Regions from separate parts of the Homo sapiens genome. Here regions 1, 2, 4, 5 and 6 are each linked to region 3. Evidence: fine-mapped expression QTL. A gene starts in region 3. Each other region holds a variant in brackets. All regions are shown on one strand. Distances are from middle to middle.

What was found. PIP is the estimated chance that this variant, and not a neighbour inherited with it, causes the effect. A credible set is the group of variants that fine-mapping cannot tell apart.
Region 1: its variant is the best candidate, but not a certain one, in a credible set for the expression of ADAMTS12 in fibroblasts (GTEx, PIP 0.84).
Region 2: its variant is the best candidate, but not a certain one, in a credible set for the expression of ADAMTS12 in lung (TOPMed, PIP 0.50).
Region 4: its variant is the best candidate, but not a certain one, in a credible set for the expression of ADAMTS12 in testis (GTEx, PIP 0.69).
Region 5: its variant is the best candidate, but not a certain one, in a credible set for the expression of ADAMTS12 in nucleus accumbens (GTEx, PIP 0.68).
Region 6: its variant is the best candidate, but not a certain one, in a credible set for the expression of ADAMTS12 in nucleus accumbens (GTEx, PIP 0.63).

Annotation. Positions count from the first base shown.
Region 1 is chr5:33,801,507-33,806,579 of GRCh38, reverse strand. All of the region lies in intron 2 of ADAMTS12 (ADAM metallopeptidase with thrombospondin type 1 motif 12), which reads left to right. Among named protein-coding and RNA genes, the nearest start is that of ADAMTS12, 88 kb to the left of the region's middle. The variant G/A (reference allele first, on the strand shown) is at 2,269.
Region 2 is chr5:33,575,478-33,580,550 of GRCh38, reverse strand. It overlaps ADAMTS12 (ADAM metallopeptidase with thrombospondin type 1 motif 12), which reads left to right. Exons shown (of 24, transcript NM_030955.4): 19 at 3,391-4,497. Among named protein-coding and RNA genes, the nearest start is that of TARS1, 140 kb to the right of the region's middle. RefSeq lists an enhancer at 3,309-4,508. The variant GT/T (reference allele first, on the strand shown) is at 2,810.
Region 3 is chr5:33,889,990-33,895,062 of GRCh38, reverse strand. ADAMTS12 (ADAM metallopeptidase with thrombospondin type 1 motif 12) reads left to right here and starts at 3,073. Exons shown (of 24, transcript NM_030955.4): 1 at 3,073-3,333. The coding sequence starts at 3,207. RefSeq lists enhancers at 2,790-3,289, 3,290-3,791.
Region 4 is chr5:33,589,663-33,594,735 of GRCh38, reverse strand. All of the region lies in intron 17 of ADAMTS12 (ADAM metallopeptidase with thrombospondin type 1 motif 12), which reads left to right. Among named protein-coding and RNA genes, the nearest start is that of TARS1, 150 kb to the right of the region's middle. The variant T/A (reference allele first, on the strand shown) is at 2,944.
Region 5 is chr5:33,792,280-33,797,352 of GRCh38, reverse strand. All of the region lies in intron 2 of ADAMTS12 (ADAM metallopeptidase with thrombospondin type 1 motif 12), which reads left to right. Among named protein-coding and RNA genes, the nearest start is that of ADAMTS12, 97 kb to the left of the region's middle. The variant C/T (reference allele first, on the strand shown) is at 2,291.
Region 6 is chr5:33,538,620-33,543,692 of GRCh38, reverse strand. The region is part of intron 22 of ADAMTS12 (ADAM metallopeptidase with thrombospondin type 1 motif 12); the gene reads left to right. Among named protein-coding and RNA genes, the nearest start is that of TARS1, 100 kb to the right of the region's middle. The variant G/A (reference allele first, on the strand shown) is at 3,128.

The DNA.
Region 1 (5,073 bases), 88 kb after region 3:
GGGAGTGTCAGCATCAGCTCCATCACTGGACCAAAGCCGAGACTCCTTGACTTGGATTTCATTGAATCGTTTAAAATTAGGTTCTGATGTTTCTACTTTTCCATGTAAGAATGTTAAAAAGTTAAAAAGTTACTTCTTTCTGCCCAACACCATTCCATTCCACAGACTGGTATTGAAAAGCCCCTGAGCTAGCTGGCCATGATGAATGGTGTTCCCAACCTCGAGGCTGTGCTTCCATTAATGACATCTCTGTGTATGGACTGGATGCATTTCTAGATTCTTCAGTGACTTCTGTATATTGGGAGTAAGGGGAGAGAAGGAACTAACACATTGAAAACACGCAGTATTTTTTTGTATTTTCATGATCTTCTGCATCATTTCATTAAATGCTTACAACATTCCTTCAAGGTACATATGACCTATATAACTAATGAGTAAGCTGAAATTCACAACAGATTTGTAGCTAGTAGATGGAAGAATAAATAATGAATTTTAAAATATTTATTCATCTTACTTGAAATTGTAAAAAAGTATCTAATTTTAGATATTTACACTTATTTACCACTTAGCAGCAGACTCTAAACATAATAAAGTTTAATTTTATTTTTAAGTGTTCTGCAATTTATGTTCTTTACAAAGTCTTTTTTTTTTTTTAAATGAGAGGTGGCTTTTTTTTCCCCCTTTTCTTTTCAGAGACAAAATCTCACTCTGTTGCCCAGGCTGGAGTGCAATGGCACAATCACAGCTCACTGTAACCTCGAACTCCTGGGCTCAAGCTATCCTCCCACCTCACCTCCCAAAGTGCTGGGATTAAGGCATAAACCACTGCACCCAGCCCTTTTTTCCTTCACAGCATACATATCATAACCTCTTTTCTCCTGTCACACATACATTTATTAGACAAACATTCATTATCAAAGTAGACACAAAAATAGTGCATAGGTCTATTCTGTGAGCTTGATGAAAGCCTCCACGCGCTCCCCTTAGGAGACCTCACTCCATTAGGATGGTCTGCAGATTCAGCACAGCCACTGCCACATTACAAGTCTGTGCAGTCAGTGATCCTCCTAATGTGATCAATTGCTGGATGTGGATCTGATTAAGGAGTAAGCCTCAGGTGCCCTATACAGACCTTGAGCCTTGCTGGGGTCTCATACCTTGTTCATGCAATGGAGAATACGGCTCAACTACCATGGCAGTTTATGTATCTCCAACATCTTTAATTTCTTTAATGAGACTGAATTTCTAGTATTCATTATGCTAATTAACAAGACCCTACTTTCACCAATAATTTTTAAAATTTGTTATATAATAATTAGCAAGCTGTGGATTGTTGATGTTGACCCAGGTAGTGGAAGTATTTGGGGAGCCTCTCCTGGAGGGTGGCTCCTTTTGTTGTAATGCTAGCTAACCACCCCAGGGCTGTGTATAAAGCATAGTGTTAGCTTGATCAATCTTAGAATTTAAATTAAAATTAACTGATGCTTACATAATATCACACTGAGTAGACTGGAATATTTTCCAGTATGTTACAGACTTCATGATGCTCACTCTCATGAGTACATTGGTACTAGTCAGACATTGTTTGTTTGTCAGGGGTGCAAAGTGGGAATGAATGGGTACTTCATCTTTGCTGTGCTGATCCCCATTGACTTTCACATTTTTTTTTATTCTGTAGTGCAGGGTTTTCTTACTATGATTTCTTGGAGTACAATGTTCTATCTCTTCACCTCCTTACTCTTAGGCTGGTAAATATCTATAGGAATGAATGGAATGGGGATGGTGAGCGGATCAGGTATATGTAATTTGAAATTTCTGAATGATTCTGATGCCACCCTTCACCCACCTCACTGCCTTAGGCTAGTTCTTCCTTTTGGCTCTATCATTCTTTTCACTTGTGAATTGCATTGCAAATATTTTATCAAAATGGTTTCTACAGTGCTGTCAATTTCCCAGGACCTCTTAGGCTGAGGAGGGAAGTGATGGGCTGTGTACCTTTCAGCACGTGTTGGGGAATGCCACTCTAAAACTCAGTGGCTTTAAACAGCCATCATTTATTCTTGCTCACACATCTGCATGTCAGTTGGGAGTTGGCTGGCTGGCTCTCCTTCCAGCTGTGAGAGAGCTGGGCTTGGCCCCTCATGCAGGGTTGGGCTCAGGTCTGCTCTCTGTATGTTCCTTCTGAGGCCAGGTTGGCAGGAGGCTCTTCCCATGGCAGTGATGGGGGTGCAGAAGGTGAGCACCACTGTGCAATCATAGCTTGTTTGC[G/A]ATGGGTTTGCTAACATCCCTTCCAACAAAAGAAGTCACATAGATGAGCCCAAAGTCAAGGGGCAGGGAACTCTATATATGAAGATGGGGGAAGAGGAAGGGAATATATATGAATAACTTAATCTACTGTGGCCTGTGAATGAAGATAATGTATTTTGGAGCAGTTTTTAGTTTGCAAAGACTTCTCCTCACCCACATACATTATCCCATTCGGTCCTTATAATAGCCCATGAGGTGTGTGTTATATCTGTCTCCATTTTTAATGAGAAAATTAAGGCCTAGGGAAGTTAAAGACATTTGGTAAAGGATGTCCAGCCAATAGGCAGCACAGCTAGGCTCTTGTCTTCTTCCCCTACATTGTTGATATGGTTTGGCTCTGTGTCCCCACCCGAATCTCACCTTGAATTGTAATAATCCCATGTTTCGTGGGAGGGATCCCATAGGAGGTAATTGAATCATGGGAGCAGGTTTTTCCCATGCTGTTCTTGTGATAATGAATAAGTCTCATGAGATTTGATGGTTTTATAAAAGGGCAGTTCCCCTGCACACACCCTCTTGCCTGCTGCCGTGTAAGATGCGTCTTGCTTCCCCTTTGCCTTTCGCCATGATTGTGAGGCCTCCCCAGCCATGTGGAACTGGAAGAATTAAACCTCTTTCCTCTATAAATTACCCAGTCTTGGGTATGCCTTTATTAGCAGTGCGAGAACAGACTAATACAATTGTCTCACTCTTCATCTGACCTCCCATGAATCATAGAGATCATTGTACTTTGCTGCCATTGGAGAACATGAAAGTAGCTGGGTATTTCTCAATGTTATTTGTTGGTGGCATCCTAAGGAATCAAACACAACCAGAATGGTTCAGGCCAGTGCACCCCACACTTCAAGGCATGTAACAGTGAAGTTGAATAACCAAGGTAGCATTTACCACTTTAGGTTGTGTATAGCGTGTACTTAATTGACTCTCTAAATGTAAGCTTCTCATTAACAGGGCTTATGTCCGGTCACCAGTAATGTGTCTGATTCTATCAGATGTTTGTTCCCACCACACTTCTTTTGGGGTTTGTAATAGTTTTGTCTGTGGGTTTTTTTGTTTAGTTATCTTAGTTTGTCTGTCTGCTTTTATGGGCGAGTTTGGAGAAATTCAAAAGCAATCCCACACTGCCTTCATCTTCCCTGGATCCATGTACCTTATCATGTATGAGTCTTTTCCTAGCCCTCTAGAGAGACTGTCTACCACCTCATTTGTGCCTTGCTGTTCCCTGGACATCCTTATCTTATAATATCAGTGACACTTGCTGATTATGGGTAAGTCTCCTTCTGAGGGCAGGGGTTGTTTTTCACTTGTGTTTGGATCTCAAGTACCTAGTTAATTGTCTGGCATGTAGAGTTCCTCAGTAAGCATTTCTTACATGAAGGAATAAACAGACTTTTGCCGCAAATAGGTCCCACATCTGGAAGAGTAAACTTGTTACCCGGTGCAAATTGCCTAATAATAGCAACTGTATTACGTCTCCCATAGAGGACTGCTATTGCTAACATTTGTAGCTTGAAAGGATGTCCAAGAATTTACTTGGGGATCAGAGTAGGGCCCCTGAGATGTAGTGTCTTAAAAAGGGAAGGCTAGGTGGTTTTCTGTTAGCTATCCCTGGATGTTAACTTTAGATGCCACCTGGGAAGAGGAAGTTGCCTGAAATCTTAAAACTTTAAGCAGAGCACCCAGTGAGGGCATTTAACGGGAGTCATGGGGAAGATGCAGAGAGCAGGGACCAGGTGGCCATCCTAGCAGTGGTTTGCATGTTGCTGTTACCATAGCACCAGTGGGTGGTCCATCCTGTGGAGCAGTGGCATCTTTGATGATGAGCACCACCTCCACTACTGTGACATTGTGGGTGGTGTCATCTTGTTTGACAAATGCTACCTGCCTGTGATTAGGATCCAATGTTGTACTTGGCCCAGCTTAGCTTTGCTTAGTTGTTTGAGCTGGAGTTCAACACAGTAACAACTTTCCAACACAGCCCCTTTCAGATAATGCTGTTTGATTAGTGTTGGAGAACTTCTCTTAGTCTTTTTGGGCTGCTATAACAAAATACTATATGTGAGTGGCTTATCAATAACAGAAATTTATTTCTCACAGTACTGGAGGCTGGAAAGTCCAAGATCAAGATGCTAGCAGATTCAGTGACTGGTGATGAAGGCCCACTTCCCAATTCATAGATAGTGCCTTCTCACTGTAACCTTACATGGTAGAATGGGAAGGCAGCTCTCTGGGGCCTTTCTTATAAGGCACTGATCTCATTCATGAGGGCTCCATTCTCATGGCCTGATCGCCTTCCCAAAGCCCTACCTCCTAATAGCATTACATTGGTGATAAGGTTTTTAACATACATTTTGGAGGGACATAAACATTCAGACCATAGCAATCTTCCACTGAAAGCTCCACTTTAATAAGTCAATGATTTGGCACTGGGATCACAAAGAGTGGAAATCACAAAGATGGGAAACACCCCAGCAGTCACCTTTAATCTTCAACCTCACGGCATTTTCTTGTTGCTTCGCTGTCTGATGTCACAATGAGTATTCATTCTTCAGTGACTGGCACTGGGACTCCCTCACCTTTGTACCTTCAGCACCATTTCTGCTACACTGTAAGTGCTTAGTAAATGTTTCTATAATGAATGAGTTTGTTTTGAGGCTCTTGTTTTTTCTGAAAGGACACCAAACCACAGTGAGAAGAAAAGAGATCTGCCTAATAACAGACAGAACCTGTTTGGGAAAGATTCAGAATGAGGAACCTGGTTATAAG
Region 2 (5,073 bases), 310 kb after region 3:
TAGCTGAAATGGTCTGGCTGTGTGTCCCCACCCAAATCTCATCTTGAATGGTAATCCAAATTGTAATCCCCATGTGTTGAGGGAGGGAACTCATGGGGAATGATTAGATCATGGGAGCTGTTCCCCCGTGCTGTTCTTGTGACAGTGAGTTCCCATGAGATCTGAGGGTTTTATCAGGGGCTTTCCCCACTTCAGTCTGCACTTGTCTCTCCTGCCGCCATGTGAAGAAGGATGTGTCTGCTTCCCCTTCCACCATGATTGTAAGTTTCCTGAGGCCTCCCCACCCATGCAGAACTGTGAGTCAATTAAACTGCTTTCCTTCATAAATTTCCCTGTCTGGTATTTCTTTATAGCAGCATGAAAACAAACTAATACAGTAGCTTTTCTTCACTCCTGCCTTACCCTTTTAGGTTGAGCAAATTCACACCATCAGTAAGATTACTTAGTTCTTGTTATTGGTAAATTTGAAAACCACATATCCATCGGTTGGCTCTAGGAAATCTGAATCTAAAAACATCCAGCAGTAAACCAGTAGGGGGTGTGTGGATCTCCACAGTATCTTGTAGACATGTGCCTGCACCTACCTCACCAAGACAGCTGCTCACGTCACACCTCCCTGTTGAGACAATTCTGTGTGTCACCCACAAGGGCAGTAGAAATTGGGGAACCCCAAGCCTTTTGTTATGATCACTATTATTATTATCAGCATCATTATTAGAACAGTGATAATAATAGCTTTCAATCACTAATTGTCTTCATATGTTATGCCACCTCTGTTAAGCCTGTTGTTGAAGGTAATCCACACAGTAGCCTGCAAAGGTAGGTGCTGCTGTCTCTGTTTCCAGGTGAGGAAGCTGACTTAGTCACCGAATCACACAAGGAGTTAATATGATACATCAGGGAATTTAAGCTATTTCTCAGAGGTTTTATAGTTTTTTGACTTCATAGTTCAATGGGGAGGTGGAGGGGATATGATCCTATACTTTGGCATTTAAAATTTTTTTGTAAAAGTGTACAAGTAAAGCTAACTTCTTTAGAGATATTAGCAACATTTCAAGTCAAAACAAACCAAAAAGAAAAAGAGAAAGAAGAGAAAGAAAATAAAAATAGAAGCGTTTCCTATTATGTTACTATCTAGTCTAATACTTCATGGAAAGGAAAGCCGAAAGAGAGCCACCTGTTGCCTGAGAAGAGTTGGCAGTAGCTGGGACCTCAGTTATCAGTCAGCTCTCAAGACTGAGCCTGCCTGAGGCAGCCAGCATGGAAATGTGTTCACACATACAAAACTGATCAGTTTTACAAAGTGGGGATTTGAAAATCCAAGAAGTTCAGATTAGAATGTAATAAATGGAGAGGGACTCAGCGTGACTAAAATAGATGGAGCACAGAGTATCTTCCTACACAAGAAGGGAAGAAACAGTGCAGCAAACCAGGAAGATAAATACCTCCTGCCTTCCCTTTCTAGGTCCAGGGAGAAGTGAGTCATGGACCATGCCAGAAGAGACTGTTTCCTCCCTGTTGGGCTCTGACACTTGCAGTTGGTAGCCCCCACTTTGGTGGGAAATGATTGTGCATTAAGCATCATTTCCGCCCAAATTATTATTATTATTATTTCAAAACAAATCTGGAAGTTCCATCTTGGAGTGACTTGCTTTAATATTTTGTGGACATCTTAAATCCACAGCTTCACTGGTTGGGTCCAAACACAGTTCGACACTCCTTCAGCTGTACATTCTCCTGTGCTCACAGCATCTGCTTTTCAAAAGAGCTGATTTCACAGAGCTGTTTTACATCAGTAAGTGATTATGTTTGATTGAAACAAAATAAAGGAGAAGTTTTCTATGTCAATATTATGTTCCTACTTAGAGAAAACTGAAAATAGAACTTGAGAAGGCAAGGAACTTAATCTAAATGCAGAAGCTCATGAGTGAGAATTTTTCCATTCCTGATTTTTTTTTCCAGGTAAAAGAGTCACTTAATTAATATGTATAAGGTGATCACTGTGTCCTCAGAACTATCCTGGAATTCCATTATGAATAAAAAACAGTTCCTGCCTTTGGATAGCTTTTAATAAATCAAAAGTCACTGAGTGAACTCCATGGACAGCTACTTGTACAGTGTGTTGCACTAGGTTTGGGGATGGGGGTAAAAATAAATCTAATGCTTATTCTATGACTGACTTGCCGCCTTTCAAGTGAGTTCCTGGGCCTCAGGCTCCTCACTTGTGGGAGGCAGAATAACAGTTCCTGCCTTGTACATCTCATAGGGACGTCATGTATATCACACAGAATAATGTTTGCGCAGCCCTTTGAAATCATTATGCAGTCCCCATCCTTAAGAAATGTGCTTTGAGGTCAGGGATACCTGACAGAGAAATGTAAAATGACCAGTGAAGACCCCTGGGTGGTCTGTGCTCAAGTGCCAACTATTTGGTGGTTGACTTCAAATGCCATTGGAAAGAGAAGCTAAAAATGGAACCATTTGGTAAAAGTACGGATTTTTCAAAATATTTAGACATTTAGTGTTTTATAGCAACTCCATATCTGCCATTCACAGGTGTTGAAATTGATGCAATGAAGATTCTTTACCATGTATCCTGAGGAAGGCCTGTTCTGTTAGGATTCCCCCAAAGGCAGTCTAGCTGCTTGGGCTTCAGCATGGCATACAGAATGTGGAGGGAACATTGGGGAGGGGCACTTACCAGTACCCGAATATATACCTCAGTGCCATGCTGAGGGATTGACCGAACTCCTTGGGAAAGGCTATTTCCTACCTTTGATTAACTATGTACCTTTAAATTTTAGAGTAG[GT/T]CTTGGATCTATGCACCTGTGTGAGTATGGTGATTATCTAGCTTTTAATCTGATTCCACCTGCCATAGGCAAGTGAAAATGGAGCTTAAGGTACCTGGGGAAAATGTGTGAGTTATGATAGTTGCTTTCTAAATAGAAAGGGAAAGGTTCCTTATACCGAATTTCATATTCCAGAGAATATGCACACATTATACATTAATTTAATAAAATCACAATCCCAGAAAAGAGACAGTGTGACTTACTAGCTCTTTAAAAGATTTAGCAACTTGTGTAAACCATTGCATTCATTGTGGATCCCGCCATCCATGATTCACAGCCCAAAGGGACTGCAGTTTGACTACATCATGGTTTACATTTTCAGTTTGTGAAGAATAAATGGTTGAGACTGAGTCCCAGCTGGTCTCCAGGAGATACATATTTCCATGGAAAACTGAAAGAGCACAGAAACCAAATGTAGATAGCAGACAATTTTAGCTGCATAGTTTAGTTTCCATCAGGCCTGTTTTGATCTGTTATAGACCTAACCATGAGAATAAAAGCATCTTCTCTCGCCAGGCTAACAGCTGTTTCTCTCTTCTAGTGTTCTGTTTCCTGTGGTGGTGGAGTGCGGATTCGCAGTGTCACATGTGCCAAGAACCATGATGAACCTTGCGATGTGACAAGGAAACCCAACAGCCGAGCTCTGTGTGGCCTCCAGCAATGCCCTTCTAGCCGGAGAGTTCTGAAACCAAACAAAGGCACTATTTCCAATGGAAAAAACCCACCAACACTAAAGCCCGTCCCTCCACCTACATCCAGGCCCAGAATGCTGACCACACCCACAGGGCCTGAGTCTATGAGCACAAGCACTCCAGCAATCAGCAGCCCTAGTCCTACCACAGCCTCCAAAGAAGGAGACCTGGGTGGGAAACAGTGGCAAGATAGCTCAACCCAACCTGAGCTGAGCTCTCGCTATCTCATTTCCACTGGAAGCACTTCCCAGCCCATCCTCACTTCCCAATCCTTGAGCATTCAGCCAAGTGAGGAAAATGTTTCCAGTTCAGATACTGGTCCTACCTCGGAGGGAGGCCTTGTAGCTACAACAACAAGTGGTTCTGGCTTGTCATCTTCCCGCAACCCTATCACTTGGCCTGTGACTCCATTTTACAATACCTTGACCAAAGGTCCAGAAATGGAGATTCACAGTGGCTCAGGGGAAGAAAGAGAACAGCCTGAGGACAAAGATGAAAGCAATCCTGTAATATGGACCAAGATCAGAGTACCTGGAAATGACGCTCCAGTGGAAAGTACAGAAATGCCACTTGCACCTCCACTAACACCAGATCTCAGCAGGGAGTCCTGGTGGCCACCCTTCAGCACAGTAATGGAAGGACTGCTCCCCAGCCAAAGGCCCACTACTTCCGAAACTGGGACACCCAGAGTTGAGGGGATGGTTACTGAAAAGCCAGCCAACACTCTGCTCCCTCTGGGAGGAGACCACCAGCCAGAACCCTCAGGAAAGACGGCAAACCGTAACCACCTGAAACTTCCAAACAACATGAACCAAACAAAAAGTTCTGAACCAGTCCTGACTGAGGAGGATGCAACAAGTCTGATTACTGAGGGCTTTTTGCTAAATGCCTCCAATTACAAGCAGCTCACAAACGGCCACGGCTCTGCACACTGGATCGTCGGAAACTGGAGCGAGGTAAGACATTTCCTACCCCTGGCCTGGTTTTACATGGAAAAAAGCTAGGAGTGTTAAATTCATGTGAAAATTTCAAAATGAGTTTGCATTAAAATATATTCTATTGTGAAAACAAAAGGAAGCAATCAGACCCATGCCCTCCCCTCCCTCCTTACCCCCATAACTCTTTAAATGGAAAAAAAATTATGTAAATTATATAACTTGTGAAATTGTATAGATATATTGTCTAGCTTTTAATCTGATTCTACCTGACCCAACCAAATGAGAGTTCCTGCCGTGTACAATTCTGAAGGATGTTGTGTATATCACACAGAATAATGTCTGTGCAGCCCTTTGAAATCATTATGCAGTCCCCATCCTTAAGAAACCTGTTTTGAGATCAGGGATACAAGACAGAGAAAGGTAAACTGACCAGTGAAGACCCCTGGGTGGTCTATGTTCAAGTGCCAACTGTTTGGTGGTTGACTTAAAATGTCATTGGAAAGGGAAGCTAAAAATTTATATATAGGGAAGGAGAACAAATGTAGTGAGATATAGTGAAAAGTACCCTGAACTAAGCTAGGAAGCCTGGGCATT
Region 3 (5,073 bases):
TTTAGTGCTTCATCCTGATTTTACTTTCACAGCCACTTAATCCTAGGCAAGTTACTTAACCTTTCAGTGTCTGTTTCCTCATCTATAAAATGAAGATACTAATGGTACCCACATAATAAGTTTTTTATGAAGTTTAAGTAAAGCAATACCCATATAGTCTTTAGCACAGAGCCAAGCATATAGTCAGCATGTAATAAATGCTTGCTATTCTTAGCTATCATTCAACTCTGGAATCTTGCATGGTTTTGTAGTGTTTCCTCAAGGGCAGCATGTTTGTATAAGCTCAGAGGTAGTTTGGATACTATGCAGTGATTCACAGTTCTGCTATCTACAGTGGGCAGGAGAGGTAGTTGGCTTTTTTATTGCTACCAACCTTGGTCACCAAGGGGATTTGTTACCTTTTCTCATTAAGCAGAAGCAAAGTTGAGGAGGATTAAGTCTCTCTACGCTGAGGTAACTCCAAGCTTTGGAGAGATTTTTGTAAATTCTGGAAAGAGTAGGAGGAACGTTAGAATAGTAGCAGAATGTATATTTGTGCTAAGTCATGTTGAGAACGTGCTAAAGTTGGAGACATGAATTGATAGTTGCACAATTAGATGCAATTATGTGAGTTTTTTCAACAGCACTTGGAAACAGAGAGCAGAGAAAATCAGCAGCTAGGGTAAAACAGAGTTAGATTTTGATGAGGAAGATATGAGATGTTGAATGTACTGGTTTAAGGAGGTGGATCAAAGGGTATGACTGGGCAAAAAAGGTGGTGAGTCCAGAGAGATGCTGATTATTAGAAAACCAAAGATGGGGAGATCAAGGAACTAGAAGTTCCTACTAGGCTGAAGATCCGAGGTACTGGGTATAAAGGTTTGGAAGGGCTGGCAGAATACAAAGTGTTGGTGGGATTTTATAATTTTAATATTTCAGTCTTGGTTGACTTATGGATAATAGATATTCCTGGTTATGGTCTTGAGAGTAGATGGGAGAAAGAATAAGGGAAATGCCATTAGAGTTGAAGAGGCTAAACTGTGAAGCCAGAGTGTTCAGTGTATCATCCCTGATATTGGTGGAACTCAGCAGTTCTCCAGAGTTCTTCAGGTTTCTGCCTGAGAGACAAATCTCTTCTCCAGGACCTGGGAGCTAGGAGTGATCTTGCCCTTTGGACAAGATCTTGCTTGCTATTAAAAGGAGCAGCAGGAGAAAAAAAGGTGGAAGAAGAAGAGTGACAGAAGAGTACAAGGAGGAGAGAGAAACAAGGAAAGGGTGAAGGGAAGCAAAGAAGAAGGGGAAGAGGAAGAAAAGAAAAGAAGCAAAAAGAATTCTAGCCCAAAGTTGTTCTTCAATGCCCTTGCAAATGCAGGTCATCATGCCTGTGTTATCTGAATGTCTTTTAACTCCAGTTGTGATCCTGCTTCCTAATGTTTACGTAACAGAAAAAAGGCTCAGAGTAGTTCTTTTACTTGCTTGTGACAACAAAACATGTTCTGTTACACGTAAAGGGGATTTAAGGTTGCAGATGGAATTAAGGTTGCTAATCAGCTGATTAGGAGAGTGTCCTGGTTAACCAGGATGAGTCTAATGTAATCGCAAGGGTCCTTATAAGTGGAAAAGGGAGGAAGAAGAGTGATGTGATGTGAGAAAGACTCAAAGGGCCATTGCTAGCTTTGATGGGGGAAGAGGGCCATGAGCTGAGGAATTCAGGCAGCCTCTAGAAGTTGGAAAAGGCAAGACAACAGATTCTCCCCTAGAGTCTTCAGAAATGAATGCAGCTGTGCTAACTCCTTGATTTTAGCCCAGTGAGACCAGTTTCAGATCAGAACTGTCACATAAGAAATTTGAGTTGTTTCAAGCCACTGAATTTATGGTAACTTGTAACACCAAAAATAGGAAACTAGCATATACCTCTCAAAGTCTTGGTGCCCATGTGTTCCACATCTGAGAGGACCACCTTGCTTTCAGACCACTGAGTTTGCCTTGGAGGCTCTGTCCCTATACAAGGTTGAGTAAGCTGGTATCCCAGAACTCTTGATTAACACATGTGGTTGGCTGGCAGCCAGGGAAAAGTCAATATTGGGGGCCGAATTCTTCCTGAATGGAGTAAGGAGGCCTGTTTCAGCTCAGAGGTGAAAAATCTTGGCTGGATTAGCCCAGTAAATTCTCAAGATGCCTGGCAAGCGTCCTGGATTGTGGCATTCTCTGACCGATGTAAAAGCTTGAGCCTCTGAATGAATGGACGCCCTCTCCAGGGTAGCCAGTTCAGGGAAACTGGGGAGATACCTTAACACCTTCCTGGGTTGACTTAATTCCTGGTTTCCTTTTGAGTGAATGGAGGTGGGCTAGGAAAGATGGGGTTCTAGAATCAGAAGAGCCGCACAGAGATCTGCAGACTCAGAGGGGCCCACAGGCATTTGCAGCAGTCACCTCATTGCACAGCTGAGGGGGCTTGTCTGAGGTCACATTAGCAGATTAGCGCAGCCCATTTCCCTTTGTGTGACTTGGCAAAGAGAAAAATCGCCTATTAGTTTTTCCAGTGGAAGAGAATCCCAGAGCGGTCCGAGTGGGTGAGGAGTCTTGATAGAGCGATGTTGGGAAAAGTTCAGGAACTTGGAGGAGAACAGCAGGGGAGGGGGCAGCGCTGAGCGCGGAAGGATGGAGGGAGTGGGGCCCCCCTCTGCCTCAACTCTGTTCTCCTCATTTTGAGCTTGTATTTAAGCACGCCGGGGGGCTGGCCTGGGGGCCTCTCACTCGCAGCTTCCTCCAGTGCCTCCCAGGGCGGCTCTCCCGGGTCTCCCCTATTTGGCCGGCTCGGCCAGCTGGGCCTGGCGTTCGGGGCGGGGCCGGAGGAGCGCGGGGGTGGGAGTCCGGGAGGAAGATGCACCGAGCGGGCGGGCTGCGAGGCCGCGGGGCATGCGGGAGGCGGAGGGGTGGGGACCGGGGTGGGCTGCGCCCTCCCGCTCTGGCCCATTCCACACCCCGCCGAAAGCGGACACTGTCAGCTGAATCACTCCCCTTTTAGGAGGAGGGAGGGGAAAAAGGTGTCTAGCTCCTTTCTGCTTAAAAAAGCACAGGGAGATCGCGGGCAGCTTTGCAGTCGCTGCCTTCTCGCGCCTGACCATGCACCCCTGCATCTTCCTGCTGGGCCACAGGCGAGCGCTTTATTTCTGGAGCTGAGGGCTAAAACTTTTTTGACTTTTCTTCTCCTCAACATCTGAATCATGCCATGTGCCCAGAGGAGCTGGCTTGCAAACCTTTCCGTGGTGGCTCAGCTCCTTAACTTTGGGGCGCTTTGCTATGGGAGACAGCCTCAGCCAGGCCCGGTTCGCTTCCCGGACAGGAGGCAAGGTTAGTGACTCTTCTTTATTTCTTTTTAAAACAGTGGTGGTAAGACTTGCGGGAATTTTGTTGCTCCCCTTTCCCTTCCCCCACCCGGCAGAACTGAACTCTGAAAAGCCATTTGGCTGCGTTGTAAGGAAATCTGGGCTGGGACCTCAGGAGCCTAGGCTTTCTCAGAATTCAGTGCTTAAGGTGATGAGTCCTTCATTCTTATAGAAAGGTGAGTACCTCACTCTTTTACAGGGATGACACTGCAGTCTTTGAAAGACCCAAGAGGTAGCTGGTAACTTTTTCTCTTTTGTCTCCTCTTTGAATGCTGTACTGTTTTGATCCCCTATTTTTCAGACTCTAAACATGGAAAATTTTTTTTTTAAGTGCTAACTGGCTACTGGCCGTCATTGCAGTGTTTCTAGTTAGTTTTAAACCTCTGGTCAGGAAAGGGGAAATGTGATTCTTCCCCCCTACTGAGCAGGCTTGGCTGTGTTTTGGTTTCCTGGAAAGATTTAGGGTTGTATTTTTGAAAGAATAGTCCTTTTGGGGGAACTATACCTCCATAAGGGCTCACTTTTTCCTGTCCTGTCTCACTGACCACAGCTGGCTGCTTCTCTTTATGAATTTCTGAACTCATGTTATTGTAGGAAGCATTGGAAGCGTTCTGGTGGACAATTTGTTGTTGTTGTTTTATTCTTTTAAGCCTAACAGTCAGCAGTTTATTGGACTTGGAAGGGTCAGAGGCACCTTCATGTTTGGTGGGGGGTTCATTGTACCTCTGGGGGTAAACAGTCCTAGCAGCAGCAATGGCCCGCGTGGCACTCTGTGTCAGCCCATCCGATCACTGGCAATAGCCTTCCAGGGTGCAGGTACCAGTGTTGCTGTCCCTGCTGTACAGATGAGGATGCTGCAGCTTGGAGAGCTTATGAGGCCAGCTAATGTAGAGCAGAGTTTTCAGCTCAGGTAGTCTGACTCTTAGAATCATGCAGCACTGTCCTGTAGCAATAATAGGGACACACACGCACACACACACGCATATGCACCCACACGCATGCACACGCACACAGAGCACTGGGTTAGCATGCACTAAGTCCTGTGTTTGCTGACTGTGCTGAAGCCTCGGGAAGTGTCCTCCATGACTTTCTGACATCCCTTTAATTCCCAAGGCCACTCGGGTGATAAACATCACCAGCCTGTCCTTGTTTAGGATTTCTAAGCAGGGTTTTCTGCTCATGTTGTAAAATTCAAATATTGCTGGACAACTCATCTGCTGTGGCTTCAAGACGTATCAGAAGCAAGTCCCTCTCTTTGCTTTACTTGGAAAGCTGGAGCCAGCAAACACTGGGGTTAGATGTCAGTCAGCCAGCACTCACTTGTGTAAACGGTCCAGATACAATCTCCCACCCCCAAGTTTAAAATAGCAGGGCTTGTTGTTCTTTGAAAAACAGTTCCTTTGTGAAAAGTCTCCCTTCTGGGGCAGCACAAACAAAGCCTGCAAGCACTTCCCAGGGCATTTGGAGATGATTTCGTTCAAAGACACACATTCTCCTGGGTTGGTTTTCAGCTCTGCTCCACATCTTCTTTGTAAGGGAATTCAGCTTGGTGTGAAGCAGACACCACGGGGCCATGGTTTTTGCTCTCTGGAAAGTGAGATATGATTATTTTCCCTAGTCACCTCTATCTAGAGCTATGTGCTGAGAGTATCCACTGTTCAAAAAACCTATAAAGTGCTCCAAGCTTATTGGTGATATATATATT
Region 4 (5,073 bases), 300 kb after region 3:
TCTAGGTAGGAGCTGGACCCCACCACTATTGAAGCAGGACAGAAATGTGTCATTGCCTCTCCGTGCTGTAGCTCCTTCCTGTGGTTCTTTTGCCAGGAAGAACTAGAAATGACAAGGGAAGATAAGGCTAGCACTAGGTTTTACCTGAAATTGCAGTTATGTTACTTTCTCAGGGAAGAATGAGGCAGGGAAGACAGCCCTTCTTAGAGCTAGTCCATTGCCTACTACTCCACAGAGTTCATGAACTGTGAGATTTTTGACTGCTGAGAATGTTAATTAGGCACAATATAATACATACAGGTATAATTTCTGAAAATGCACTCTCAAGTAGGATATAATAAGCTAAGTAGAACTGCATGAAACATTCAGATATAATGAAGACTGGATAACTTACAAAGAAAAAGAGGTTTAATGGACTCACAGTTACATGTGGTTAGGGAGGCCTCACAATCGTGGCAGAAGGGGAAAGGCATGTCTTATGTGGCTACAGACAAGAGAGAATGAGAGCCAAGTGAAAGGGTTTTGCCCTAATAAAGCCATCAAATCTCATGAGACTTATTCACTAGCATGAGAACAGTATGGGGCAATCCGCCCCCGTGATTCAATTATCTCCCACCAGGTCCCTCCCACAACACGTGGGAATTATGGGAGCTACAATTCAAGCTGAGATTTGAGTGGGGACACAGCCAAGCCATATCAATGGCCAATTTACAAAAGTGCTTTTTATTTATGATTGCATTTTAGCTTCTACAAATATTTATGAAATAGTCATAAGACAGGGTATGGGTATTACTCTGAGGTGGTATATGAGGAGATAAAGGTTCAGAGAAATTTGATGCCATACCCTAGGGGAAATGGCTGCAGAGAAAACTAGCACTTCTTTTTTTAAATTTTACTTTAAGTTCTGGGATACATGTGCAGAATGTGCAGGATGTTCCATAGATATACATGTGCCATGGTGGTTTGCTGCACCTATCAACCCATCATCTAGGTTTTAAGCCCCGCTTGCATTAGGTATTTGTCCTAATGCTCTCCCACCCCTAGCCCCCCAACTCCCTACAGGCCCCAGTGTGTGATGTTCCCCTCCCTGTGTCCATGTGTTCTCATTGTTCAACTCCCACTTATGAGTCAGAACATGACATGGTATTTGGTTTTCTGTTCCTGTGTTAAAAACTAGCACTTTTTAAGAATGCACTATTTTCCAAGCTGTTTCCACATAACCATATCATTTAAGCCTGTAAGCAACCCTAATTTGTAGATACATTTATGCTCATTATACAAATGAAGACTCTAAAGCTTTCACCAAAATTTTCCTAGGTCACTTAGCTACAAATTGTAGAGTCGGGATTTGAACCCAGATCTGTTTGCTGTGCTGCCTCTGTATGTGCTGCTACACCATGCTGCTGCCTAGGATCTCAGGATAAGCAGGTTTCAGTACTAGAACCAGAATCCCCTACATTTAAACTTTTTCTCTCACATTAAAACACAATAAAAATGTTATGAATGCTTGACTCCAAAACTAAGTCATGCCTCCAGGTCCAAGCAATTCTCCTGCCCCAGCCTCGTGGGTAGCTGGGATTACAGGCGCACACCACCACATCTGGCTAATTTTTGTATTTTTACTAGAGATTAGGTTTCACCATGTTGGCCAGGCTGGTCTCAAACTCCTGACCTCAAGTGATCCACCCGCCTTAGCCTCCCCAAGTGCTGGGATTACAGGCATGAGCCCATGTGCCTGGCGATTTGCTTTTTTAAAAATAAATAAATAATAAACTAATATTATTTGTTTTTGCAAGATTAGTTCACTAGTTTCCTTGTATATGAATTTCAAGCTGCAATATCTTCTTCTGTCACCGAATTTCCATGATCTCTAAAAAGTTCATACCCATCACTGGGAGCTGTCATTTCCTTTCCCAAAAAATTTCCTGTGCAAGGTTTAATCTTATTTATTTATGGATCATTTTTCTTCAGTAATATCTTGTTTTTACAACCAATTTCAACATTCTGTGTTCTTCCCCAAAGGAGTATTTGAGAGAGATTTTTTTAAGATTTAATAAAAACTTTTGATTATCTAAACATAAAAAAATATATATTACATTGCCAATGGCTTTCAGGATGAAAGCCTTGTAGAGCATGTTCCAGGAGAGGGTAGGCTGTCAAGAAAGAAATTCTTTGAAAATTTAATATATCTGACTCCAGAAAGAGGTTATTTGAGTCCCTTCTCCCTACTGACTTCTCTCTGAATTTTGGTTTTCAGCAAAGCAAAGCTCTGCTAGGCCACAGCTGTGATAGTGCCTAGCATATCCAAAGTACTCAATAAACCTCTGACAGTGATTTTTTTAAACTCTGGCAGCTACATGTAGGTTTCAGTCCACAAAATAATGACATATGACTTAAATCAAGGTTTCTCAACCTCAACGCTATTGCTGCTTTGGGCTGGATAGTTTTTTTTGTTTTGTTTTGTTTTTTGTTTTTTTGTTTTTTGTTTTTTTTGTTTGTTTGTTTTGAGACGGAGTTTCGCTCTTGTTGCCCGGGCTGGAGTGCAATGGCGCAATCTCGGCTCACCGCAACCTCCGCCTCCCAGGTTCAAGCGATCCTCCTACCTCAGCCTCCCAAGTAGCTGGGATTACAAACATGTGCCACCACGCCCAGCTAATTTTTGTATTCTTTTTTTTTTAGTAGAGACGGGGTTTCTCCATTTTGGTCAGGCTGGTCTCGAACTCCCGACCTCAGGTGATCCGCCCACCTCAGCCTCCCAAAGTGCTGGGATTACAGGCGTGAGCTACCGCGCCTGGCTTACTGGGCTGGATAGTTTTTTGTTGTGGGAAGCTGTCTAGTGCCAATGTAGGAGGTTTAGCTGTATCCCTGGACTCTATCCACTAGATGCCAATAGAAACCCACCCCCCTTTCCCTGTCACCACTGATTTGTGACGACGAAAAATG[T/A]CTTCAGACATTCCCAAATGTCCCCTGGGGAGGGAAGCTGCAGAAATCTCTGCTGATTGAGACCTTCTGATCGAAATGAAAGGAATAAGATCGTTGAGACTGGGAAAAGCCCATGAAAGAGGGAAAAGGACTGAGCATGGTGTGTGTAGGGGACAAGAAAGCTAGGGAAAATGAGGCTGGAGGAATGGGATATAATGAGAATATGGAGACAATGGGTACACAGAGCCAGGAGGTAAGAGTGCTTATACTGTAGTCATGGTTTTGTCAGAATTTGAAATGTTTAGTTGAATCGGATTTTGGAATGTAAATTCTATTAGGAAAAATATTAGTACAAAGAAAGATGATAATTATAAAATTTGATTTCTTAAAGGAAATTACTATTCTCAGCAAGGGTTTAACAAATTCAGTTTTGGACTTTCATTTATCTGAGTAATGAAGGTTAGAAAGAGTGACGTGTCCTGGTTTGTTGGCGATCAGCGCTGTTGGAACATATACTGATAGGGGAATCAGTAGAAGCTACTGATAAAAGAAGGGTTCTTTTAAAAATAAAAGAGAGGTTCAAAGGGTCTCTAACCCATCCCTTCTACTTGATCTCAGAGAGGACTCATATCCAAACTACAGTAAACTTTTACAGAATTCTGGAACAACTACAGGCTCTTCAAAGATCTCAAACATAGGCACACACATACACACACACACACACACACACACTTAGACATTTAGATAAAACATAAAATCTCCATAAATATAAAAACAGTATTTTAGAAATCTCCAACAAGAGGTGGGATTATGGCAAACACCCAAAAGAATGAGATGGGCAGCAGAGAACAACTGGACCATGGCTCCTGAGCCCTGGACCTGGAAGACCTTTACAGGAAAAAAAAAAAAAAAAAAGGAAGAAGAAGATGGTTTTCACTTTAATCTTGTGAGACTAAGACTAAGCTGTTTTAGTCCATTTTGTGTGGCTGTACCAGAATACCACAGACTGGGTAATTTATAAAGAACAAATTTATTTCGTGGCCAGGTATGGTGGCTCACTCTGTAATCCCAGCACTTTGCGAGGCCGCGGCAGGATTACTTGAGCGCAGGAGTTCGAGACTAGCCTGGGTGACAAAGCAAGACCCTTTCTCTATAAAAATAAAAAATAAATTTCTTTTAAAAATAAACATTTCTCACAGTTCTGGAGATTGGATGGCCAAGATTGGAGGTTCATTTGATCTGGCGGGGGTCTTCTTGCTGCATCCTCATAAGGCTGAAGGAGGAAGGGCAACAGAGGACAAACGTTCATGTCCTCATACAGAAGAGTGAGAGGGAGTAAACCACTCCCAAATCCTTTTCCAAGTGGCCTTAATCCATTCATGATGGTAAAGCCCTCACGATCTAAACACCTCCCATCAGATCCCACCTCCCAACACTGTTATATTGAGGATTAAGTTTCTAACACATATGTTTTGGGGAACACATTCAGACTATAGCAAAATCACAGGCAATATGTCCCCTAAGGGACTGTAGAGAAAACTCCAAGAAGAGAAAACAAGAACGTCTATTATCACTTTGCAGTAATACAGCTGAAAGCCCTGTAGCAAGTACTTAGATAAATTAGGCTTTCAACCAACTCAGATTAAGACCTTTTCAGAATGGCATTTTATATATTCCCTTGGCCTGCCCTCCTTTAGAAAAGTCAGAGGCAGGACAAAGTAATTAGATTAATACAGTGGGGCACTTATTTGGTTTCACATCATACTGTTCCAATATTATTAGCTCTTTATCCACTGATGTTAAACACCAAAGAATAAATAAGTAATCTCAATTACTTATTAAATGAAGAATATGATTGAATTGAGGAATTGCTTTCTTCTGATATTTTTAACTTGAGATTAAAAGTGTCACAATCAAAAGAAATTCTACATAAATAAATCTAATATTTAGTAAATAAAAATAAAAGTAAAAAGTTTTATCTTCAAAATTACCAAAATTCAATGCTGTCTCAAGTCAGGAGGCTTTCCTGAAGTCAGGAATGAAGGACTTCCCCCAGTGTACTATTTTCCCATGAAAAATAGAAGTGCCCCACTTGTTACTATATGAAGGGATGGACAAGCGGGCTGTACACAGGAAAAATAATGGACACAA
Region 5 (5,073 bases), 98 kb after region 3:
TATAACTCCAGGAGATAGCATTTAATTAGTCTCCAGTGTCAATGGCATATCCTCCCATTTTATAGGGCAGGAGCCCTCTTCAACAGGCTTGGCCAGGAAGATTACAGACCCTTGACCACTCAAGGTCTGTAAAAGTGAAGTCTAAATTCTTCTTGCTAGCAACTGGCATGGGGCTGTGGGAGGCTAGGCATCTAGATTTGTTGACGTGATGTAAAGAGTTGCTTGTTCACATTCTTGTTATCAGGATATTATTTTTTCATGCCTGGATTTAGAGATGCCTTTATAGAAGAAGGTTTCTCAGAGTCCTCTCAGTCCTGCCTTCTGTGAGGTTTTTGCCTTTCAATTTGGACATGCTTTGATCCAGTAGTTGGAGAGAAGTCAAGCTTCCTTGAAGGAGTCTCTATCCATCAACAATCACTGAGTTCATCATCCAGTCTTCCATTCCCAAAGGCTGGACTTAGGGAGTCCACAGCTCTCATTTGAAAGCACATAATTTTATGTTTTTTAATCAAATGATGATGAGGGTGAAGTTTGGCTTTGGGGAGGCTTTTGAAGTTGCTCCTTGCACCATTTCTTTTCCTGCTCTTCATAGACCCTACAGGATCCAGGTTGCCATAGGCTTGATCTCAGCACATATATACTTTCAAGATAAACTTAGGAAAGGGAAGAAACTCTGAGGCCCATGCTGGTATGTAAATGGTCTGGCCTGGAAGTGACATGTGTCATTTACTCTTACAACTCATTGGCAAAAACTAGACATGAGGCCCCATCCAACCACAAGGGATGAGGGAATTCAGCTCTCCATCTGCCTATAAGAAGAGAAGTTCTGGATGTCAGTGAGCAACACCTTTTTAGGCACTGCAGGTGTATATAAATGCTACATACCTATATTAATATACATAATTTTAAAATGAAATGTATGAAGAAATAAATGTGTAGGAAATCACTAACAATAAAAATGGTGTCATACTGTGTTCTGTAATTTGGTGCTTTTCATGCAACAATATACCTTGGCATCCTTCCATGTCAGTATGTAAGTTGCATTTGTTCTAAAGTTTGCACAGTAGTGTGTTCCTTTCCTTTACTGATGCATCCTCCAGCACCTACTGGTGATGAACTCTGTGATTGTTGGTGGATAGAGTATGCCACGCTTTATGCTGGGTGCCAGAGTGAAGAAGATGGCAGTGGCAGTCCTGCATGGCACATTCTGCAGCATATCCACAGTACGTATGTGCCATGATCTATTGTCCTATTGGTGTCCCTGTAGATGAGACTTAGATGTTACAAACAATGCCACAGGCAACATTGTTGCACACACATCTTTGGGCATTTGCTTGAGTTTTTTCTCTTGTATGGACAGCAGAAAATAAAAGTTGCAAATTCCAGCATTTCTTCATGTGCCCAGAAAGATTCTATTTATCACAATGGAAGAGAGAATGGACTCTTCAGAGTGGGGCTCTCCAAATGGAATTTCTAAGTATTTTTTTGCCTGGGCTTTGTTCTCAGCTTAGGCCAGCATTTAATTGTGTGTGAAGTAATCGGCCTCAGGCACTTTGTTCCTTCATTCCCTTCAGCTTTTACTTCTACCAGTGGGGAGTATAGTGGCGAATTTTCAAAACCCTCCACATTTGGGCTGAGGTGGCTCTTACTGACAGAGACGAAGAATGGCTCCCACATCCCAGCTCCCCCATTCCTCCACATTGGGAGTATAGCCAGAGCTTGAGGAGTCTGTCCATTCACCACCGCTCCTCTGAGGAGCGTAGTTGCTGGAGTCCCTTTGTGCTTCTGAATGACATTTCTTAAGGTTGTTCGTATGAAATGAGACTATTTCCTAGTTTCAGTGCTACGTGAATAGATTTATTTTTCGATTTAAAATTTTTTTTCATTTGACGTAGGGATTCTGGAATTTGGTAATTTTTAATATTTCTGCCACCTTTTCCAGATGTCTCTTGTCTTTTAGTGCACTACATCGTGGGGCATTTGGTGAGAGCAACACTTTTTTGTTGTTGTTCCCACAGGGATTTCTATCTGGGTTGGTGTATTATAATATATTGAGACATTTCCAATCACTGAATTCGCCAGCCTAATGATTCCCGTCTCTTTACAGGTAGGGCAGTGCCATTTGTAAGCACACTGGGTGCCAGGGCAGATGCTTGCAGATTAGATTTACTGGAATCTTTCAGCCCATGGGTCCTGTGATGCTTTTACAGCCAGAACTATAGAGAAATTATTTCCAGCTTTCCTCTGCTATGCATGTAGTTTCCAAATAAAATCCAGACTTTGCTGTACA[C/T]GTAAGTCTGTTCTTGTGACCAGCTGCTTGAAATGAACAAACTTTTCAAATGTCTTTTTTAAAAAAACTTGGTCACTTTTTAATTAATTTTTAAAATATGTAAATAATGGGTTCTCTGGGAGAAAAAGGACATCATTAGGGAACTGTCCTTTGAGGAGTATTTCAAGCTGCCGATGGAGTTATTTTTCACTGATGACAGCTCAGGATGTGATTCATAGTGCTGGAGATCATACCACTTTCCTACTCTTAAGTTCTGGAGTCAGCGATCTCCCCCGCTGGCCCCTTGCAGATAGAGGAAGATACTCAGGTGTGTACCTCAGATGCCTGCCATATCAAGGGCTGCTGAGATACATTCACATCTTAACAGGCAGCTGCTGCTGGTTCTGCTACTGATGTGCCATCCACAGTGCCGGTTTCCAAGGAAAATGGAGCGTAGGAAGAAGTGCCGTGCCTACCTGCACCTCGGTCTCCATTGCCAGCAGACAGTGCATATTTGATTTACTTAATTGAGTGGCAGAGCTATACAGAGAGAAGTCAGTGTAGCAGGATGAGAATAAGCTGCAGCAGGCTGGGTGCAGAAAACCAGAATCTTCCCAGGCATGCAGCTGGCTTTCCGCTCACCGGCTCAGCACCATCTTGCCTGCTTGCGCAACCTCCACTCTCCACTCTTGAAGTAATGAGGACCGGAATTTTAGCTCCAGATCGACTGCAAGAACAAACCAGCAATCCCAAGAGGCCCCACAGACCCTCTGAAGGAAGCGGACTTCTCCTGCAGGACCGGAAGAGACACCCCAAATACTGTGAGTGCCCCAGCTGCGGAAGTGGGAAAGGGAGACCCTCCTCTCCCAAGCACACACCTCCACTGGAGAAGCTGAAGGTCTGTTTGCGGGAGAAGTTTCCGACTTTACTTGGAACTGAGTCAAGTTAGTGAGCCGAGCGAAATACAGAGGTAGAGGAAGCAACAGGAAGGCCCTGGGAGCTCCCTGGGTCCTCAAGCAGCCCATTCCCGCTGGGCACCACAGGGATTCATGGGGAGGGTGGGCAGAGGAGCAGGGGGTAAACTCCACGGGGAGGAGGAATTCTCTAGCTGAACTTTGTAACAATTTGAAAGCGGCGAGAAGCCTCCTGACCAGAACTTGCGGGAGAGTGCAAATCGGGCATGCAGACTTCACAGGCGGGGAGGGGGGAAGAACTAAAGCCCTTTTCTCTCACAGCTGGGAGGAAGATGGTCTTGGGCAAATTTTCAAGCCCATCTCGCCCTTCGCCTGGGAACAGACTTGGGATTGTTGGTGGGGGCACGGTGGGAGTGAGATTGGCCCTTCAGTTTGCATGGGAGCTGAGTGAGGCCTGTGACTGCCGGCTTTCCCCCACTTCCCTGAGTTGCTGTGGATATTAAATTGAATATGTGGATATGGAGCTTCATGTGGAAATACATTAAACAAATAAGAAAAAAAAGTTTGGGTAAAATAATCCAATACAGTCTCTCATTTCAAAAAATCTTAAATTCAATTTAAAAAATGTGACTAGATAACTTTCCATTTATGTCGATATTTATAGCCCATCCAGATTTTAAGAAACTTCACTCTCTAAAACATCTGTTCCTGGTTGCTTAATCAAATTCAGGGTTTTAAACTATTTTAAGCAATTCAGAAGATTATTCTTAAGTAATCAAAAAAATAAAGTTTATTCTATGGGAACATTTGATATTTTGCTTTAACATTTTGAACAGATTCTCATTTTGTTGGGGGGTCTGACCTTCACCCATGATTTTAAGTGTTCAGCCTCATTACACACAAACCTTATCTGTCCATGGTCCCAAATAGTTAGAGCTCATGTTTCTTGTTTGTATTTGTGAACAGAAATTTTTAGCAAGGAATAAAATAAGATTAGTCCTTTATCTGAAACACACTGGAGATAAATTGGATAGCCGTAATTGAGGAAGAGCCGTGGTGGCCAAGAGGCCAAAGTCCTGAGGCAGATGAAACCCCAGTGATCCACTGTGGCACACATCCCGAATGAAGGCAAATTCATGGACACTAAGCCTGGTTCCCAGAACTCAGTGCCTGCTGTTGTGCTTGATGTTTAGGGAGTGCTATGGGAAAGAGACAACAGAGGACACAGGCTCCTTTCAGAAGGCTACCTTGGGAGATTGACTTCTGTGCCAGTCCAGGGGAACCACAAGTAAACCATGTTCAGTTGTCCAGATTGTGCACTGAGCAATAACACCAGCCAAAGGTTGAGTGGAGTTGGAGTTCGGCTCACACTCTGCTCACCAAGTTGTCCCTTATGTGCAGGACTGCAAGTATAGAGAAGAGGCTATGACTGGCTTTTCAAGGATACTATCTTCTTGTTTTTGTTCTGTGCCTATGGAAACAGCCTGATAACCAAGTGTCAGTCTGTTCTGCCAATCATTGCTCCACACAGGGTCAGAGATAGCTGCAGTGGCAGGTGTTGAATCAACACATATCTGCTGAACATCACCTGTGCTTAACACTTGTGCCAGGCTCTTTGAGGGATAAAAAGTATAATAAGCCCACCAAATTCAATAATTGGATGTCAATTATGTAAACTGTAGAGATATTATCACGAGGTCAAGGAAAACCAGTACTTTTCAGACAGAATTTTAGTCCTATCTAATTTTCTCAAATGGGCACTGGATGAAGTAGGGGAGCCAGTTACGTGACATGCACATTCATGGTATCAAGCAATTGGCTCTATAGTACGGGGTCCCTTTGCTACCAATCTAGCGGACTTAAAAGTGAAAGCAGGCTGGGCATGGTGGC
Region 6 (5,073 bases), 350 kb after region 3:
GCATCCCAAGGATGAAGCCGACTTGATAATGGTGGATAAGCTTTTTGATGTGCTCCTTGATTCAGTTTGCCAGTATTTTATTGAGGATTTTTGCACTGATGTTCATCATGGATATTGGTCTAAAATTCTTTTTTTGTTGTGTCTCTGCCAGGCTTTGGTATCAGGATGATGCTGGCCTCATAAAATGAGTTACAGAGGATTCCCTCTTTTTCTATTGATTGGAATAGTTTCAGAATAAATGGTACTAGCTCCTCTTTGTACCTCTGGTAGAATTCGCGTGTGAATCCTTCTGGTCCTGGACTTTTTTTGGTTGTTAGGCTGTTAATTATTGCCTCAATTTCAGAGTCTGTTATTGGGCTATTCAGAGATTCATCTTCTTCCTGGTTTAGCCTTGGTAGGGTGTATGTGTCCAAGAATTTATCCATTTTATCTGGGTTTTCCAGTTTATTTTCATAGAGGTGTTTATAGTATTCTCTGATGGTAGTTTGTATTTCTGTAGGTTGGTGGCGACATCCCCTGTATCATTTTTTATTGCGTCTATTTGATTCTTCTCTCTTTTCTTCTTTTTTAGTCTTGCTAGCGGTCTATCAATTTTGTTGATCTTTTCAAAAAACCAGCTCCTGGATTCATTCAGTTTTTGAAGGGTTTGTTGTATCTCTATCTCCTTCAGTTCTGCTCTGATCTTAGTTATTTCTTGCCTTCTGCTAGCTTTTGAATTTGTTTCCTCTCGCTTCTCTAGTTCTTTTAATTGTGATGTTAGGGTGTCGATTTTAGATCTTTCCTGCTTTCTCTTGTGGGCATTTAGTGTTATAAATTTCCCTCTACATGCTGCTTTAAATGTGTCCCAGAGATTCTGGTACATTGTGTCTTTCTTCTCACTGGTTTCAAAGAACGCCTTTATTTCTGCCTTCATTTCGTTATGTACCCAGTAGTCATTCAGGAGCAAGTTGTTCAGTTTCCATATAGTTGTGTGGTTTTGAGTGAGTTTCTTAATCCTAAATTCTAATTTGATTGCACTGTGGTCTGAGAGACAGTTTGTTGTGATTTCCGTTCTTTTACATTTGCTGAGGAGTGCTTTACTTCCAATTATGTGTTCAATTTTAGAATAAGTGTGATGTGGTGCTGAGAAGAATGTATCTTCTGTTGATTTGGGGTGAAGAGTTCTGTAGATGTCTAATAGGTTTGCTTGGTGCAGAGCTGAATTCAAGTCCTGGATATCCTTGTTAACCTTCTGTCTCCTTGATCTGTCTAATATTGACAGTGGGGTGTTAAAGTCTCCCATTATTATTGTGTGGGAGTCTAAGTCTCTTTGTAGGTCTCTAAGTCTAAGTCTCTTTGTAGGTCTCTAAGGACTTGCTTTATGAATCTGGGTGCTCCTGTATTGGGTGCATGTATATTTAGGATAGTTAGCTCTTGTTGAATTGGTCCCTTTACCATTATGTAATGGCTTTCTTTGTCTCTTTTGATCTTTGTTGGTTTAAAGTCTGTTTTATCAGAGACTAGGATTGCAACCCCTGCTTTTTTTTTGCTTTCTATTTGCTTGGTAGATCTTCCTCCATCCCTTTTTTTTTGAGCCTATGTGTTTCTCTGCATGTGAGATGGGTCTCCTGAATATACACACCAATGGGTCTTGACTCTTTATCCAAAATGCTAGTCTGTGTCTTTTAATTGGGGCATTTAGCCCATTTACATTGAAGGTTAGTATTGTTATGTGTGAATTTGATCCTGTCATTATGATGCTAGCTGGTTATTTTGCCCGTTAATTGATGCAGTTTCTTCCTAGCATTGATGGTCTTTACAATTTGGCATGTTTTTGCAGTGGCTGGTACCGGTTGTTGCTTTCCATGTTTAGTGCTTCCTTCAGGAGCTCTTTTGTAAGGCAGGCCTGGTGGTGACAAAATCTCTCAGCATTTGCTTGTCTGTAAATGATTTTATTTCTCCTTCACTTATGAAGCTTAGTTTGGTTGTATATGAAATTCTGGGTTGAAAATTCTTTTCTTTAAGAATGTTGAATATTGGCCCCCACTCTCTTCTCTCTTGTAGGGTTTCTGCAGAGTGTCAGCCACTGTTAGTGTGATGGGCTTCCCTTTGTGGGTAACCCGACCTTTCTCTCTGGCTCCCCTTAACATTTTTTCCTTCATTTCAGCCTTGGTGAATCTGACAATTATGTGTCTTAGGGTTGCTCTTCTCGAGGAGTATCTTTGTGGTGTTCTCTGTATTTCCTGAGTTTGAATGTTGGCCTGCCTTGCTAGGTTGGGGAAGTTTTCCTGGATAATATCTTGAAGAGTGTTTTCCAACTTGGTTCCATTCTTCTCCTCACTTTCAGGTACATTAATCAAATGTAGATTTGGTCTTTTCACATAGTCCCATATTTCTTGGAGGCTTTGTTTGTTTCTTTTTACTCTTTATCTCTAAACTTGTCTTCTCACTTTATTTCATTAATTTAATCTTCAATCACTGACACTTTTTCTTCCACTTGATTGAATCTGCTATTGAAGCTTATGCATGCGTCACGAAGTTCTGATGCCATGGTTTTCAGCTCCATCAGGTCATTTAAGGTCTTCTCTACACTGTTTATTCGAGTTAGCCATTCATCTAACCTTTTGTCCAAGATTTTTAGCTTCCTTCTGATGGGTTAGAACATGTCCTTTAGCTCAGAGAAATTGTTATTACTGACCTTCCGAAGCCTACTTCTGTCAACTCGTCAAAGTCATTCTCCATCCAGCTTTGTTCCAGTGCTGGTGAGGAGCTACGATCCTTTGAAGGAGAAGAGGAACTCCAGTTTTTAGAATTTTCACCTTTTCTGCTCTGGTTTCTCCCCATCTTTGTGGTTTTACCTATTTTGGTCTTTGATGTTGGTGACCTACAGATGGGGTTTTTGGTGTAGATGTCCTTTTTGTTGATGTTGATGCTATTCCTTTCTGTTTGTTAGTTTTCCTTCTAACAGTCAGATCCCTCAGCTGCAGAGCTGTTGGAGTTTGCTGGAGGTCCACTCCAGACCCTGTTTGCCTGGGTATCACCAGCAGAGGCTGCAGAGCAGCAAATATTGCAGAAGAGCAAATATTGCTGCCTGATCCTTCCCCTGGAAGCTTCGTCCCAGAGGGTCAGCTGCCTATATGATGTGTCT[G/A]TTGGCCCCTGCTGGGAGGTGTGTTCCAGTTAGGCTACACAAGGGTCAGGGACCCACTTGAGGAGGCAGTCTGTCCATTCTCAGAGCTCAAACACCATGCTGGGAGAACCACTGCTCTCTTCAGAGCTGTCAGACAGGGATGTTTAAGTCTGCAGAAGTTGTCTGCTGCCTTTTGTTCAGCTATGCCCTGCCCACAGAGGTGGAGTCTACAGAGGCAGTAGGCCGTGCTGAGCTGTGGTGGGCTCCGCCCAGTTCGAGCTTCCTGGCCACTTTGTTTACCTACTCAAGCCTCAGCAATGGTGGACACCCCTCCCCCAGCTAGGTTGTCACCTCACCATTTGATCTCAGACTGCTGCGCTAGCAATGAGCAAGGCTCCGTGAGTGTGGGACCTGCCGAACCAGGCACAGGAGAGAATCTCCTTGTCTGCCAGTTGCTAAGACCTTGGGAAAAGTGCAGTATTTGAGTGGGAGTATCCCATTTTTCCAGGTACAGTCTGTCATGGCTTCCCTTGGATAGGAAAGGGCAATCCCCCAACCCCTTGCACTTCCCGGGTGAAGCGACGCCCCGCCCTGCTTCCGCTCGCCCTCCATGGTGCAGGGACAGCTGCACCCACTGTCCAACCAGTCCCAGTGAGATGAACCAGGTACCTCAGTTGGAAATGCAGAAATTACTCATCTTGTGTCGATCTCGCTGGGAGCTGCAGACCAGAGCTCTTCCTATTCAGCCATCTTGGAACCTCAATCTACTTTAGCTTTTTAAAAAAATGGTTTCTTGCCACTATACTTAAGCAAAAAAATAAAAATAAAATAGCATGCATTTTCTTTTGATTACAAAAATAATCTATACTCATTGTAAATATTCAGTGCATTCATTGATTTACAGTATGTTTCTGGATACTTCGGTTTTCGTGTTCTTCTGCCACTGAATACCTCTAAGTCTGCTAAAAGTTGACCCACGGCTGCTGTGGGTCTTGAGTTGAGAAGGGAAAATATTAAATACTTTCAAAAGAGAAAAGATCAAATATCAAAGTTATTCCAGAGGCACACAGCCTAAGAAACATCTGTTTTACAACCAGCACCTTGGATTCTCTGGCTTTTCCTAGAGCAAAGAGGAGTTGGCATCTGTCCTAAAGCTTTAGGCATAGTCAGACTTATTGAGTTTCAGGCCTCTTGTCAGCCCACAGATCAGTTTGCCAGATGGCCAGCCTGTTTGATGGAACAAAATAATTAAACTGTAAATGAAGGAAAGAGGTATTATTCTCCCTAAGCTTGCTTATTGCATAAATAACACTCTATCAGCAATACTGAAAATAAAGAAAATTGTGGCCAGGTGTGGTGGCTCACACCTGTAGTCCTAGCACTTTGGGAGGCCGAAGCAGGTGGATCACCTGAGGTCAGGAGTTCAAGACCAGCCTGGCCAACAGGGTGAAATCTCATCTCTACTAAAAATAAAAAAATTAGTCAGGCATGGTGGTACATGCCTGTAATCCCAGCTACTCCGGAGGCTGAGGCAGGAGGATCACTTGAACCCAAGAGGTGGAGGTTGCAGTGAGCCGAGATTGTACCACTGCACTCCAGCCTGGGTGACAGAGCAAGACTCCATCTCAGAAAAAGAAAATAAAGAAAATTCTCCCATGGACAGATTCTGCCATCATTCTGATTTGTCTTATCCTGGGTTTTCTATCAAATGGAATCTCGAGAAAAAATTTAACACTTTATTAGGAAATTCAGTGCCAGGGAAGCAGGGGTGATAGAAAAGAGAAAGGAGGCAGAGAAGAAGGAGAGTCAAAAATGAAGTGGTGTGTTACTAGACTGATTATCTTACCTAACTGACCATCGCTTGGTGTCAGGAGCAACTGACTGCTGGCTCTCACAGGAAGGCTTCTAAAAACTGTGTGAACTACTGCGTGTTGTGGCAGTTTATCCGGGAAGGGAGGGAAGAGTAG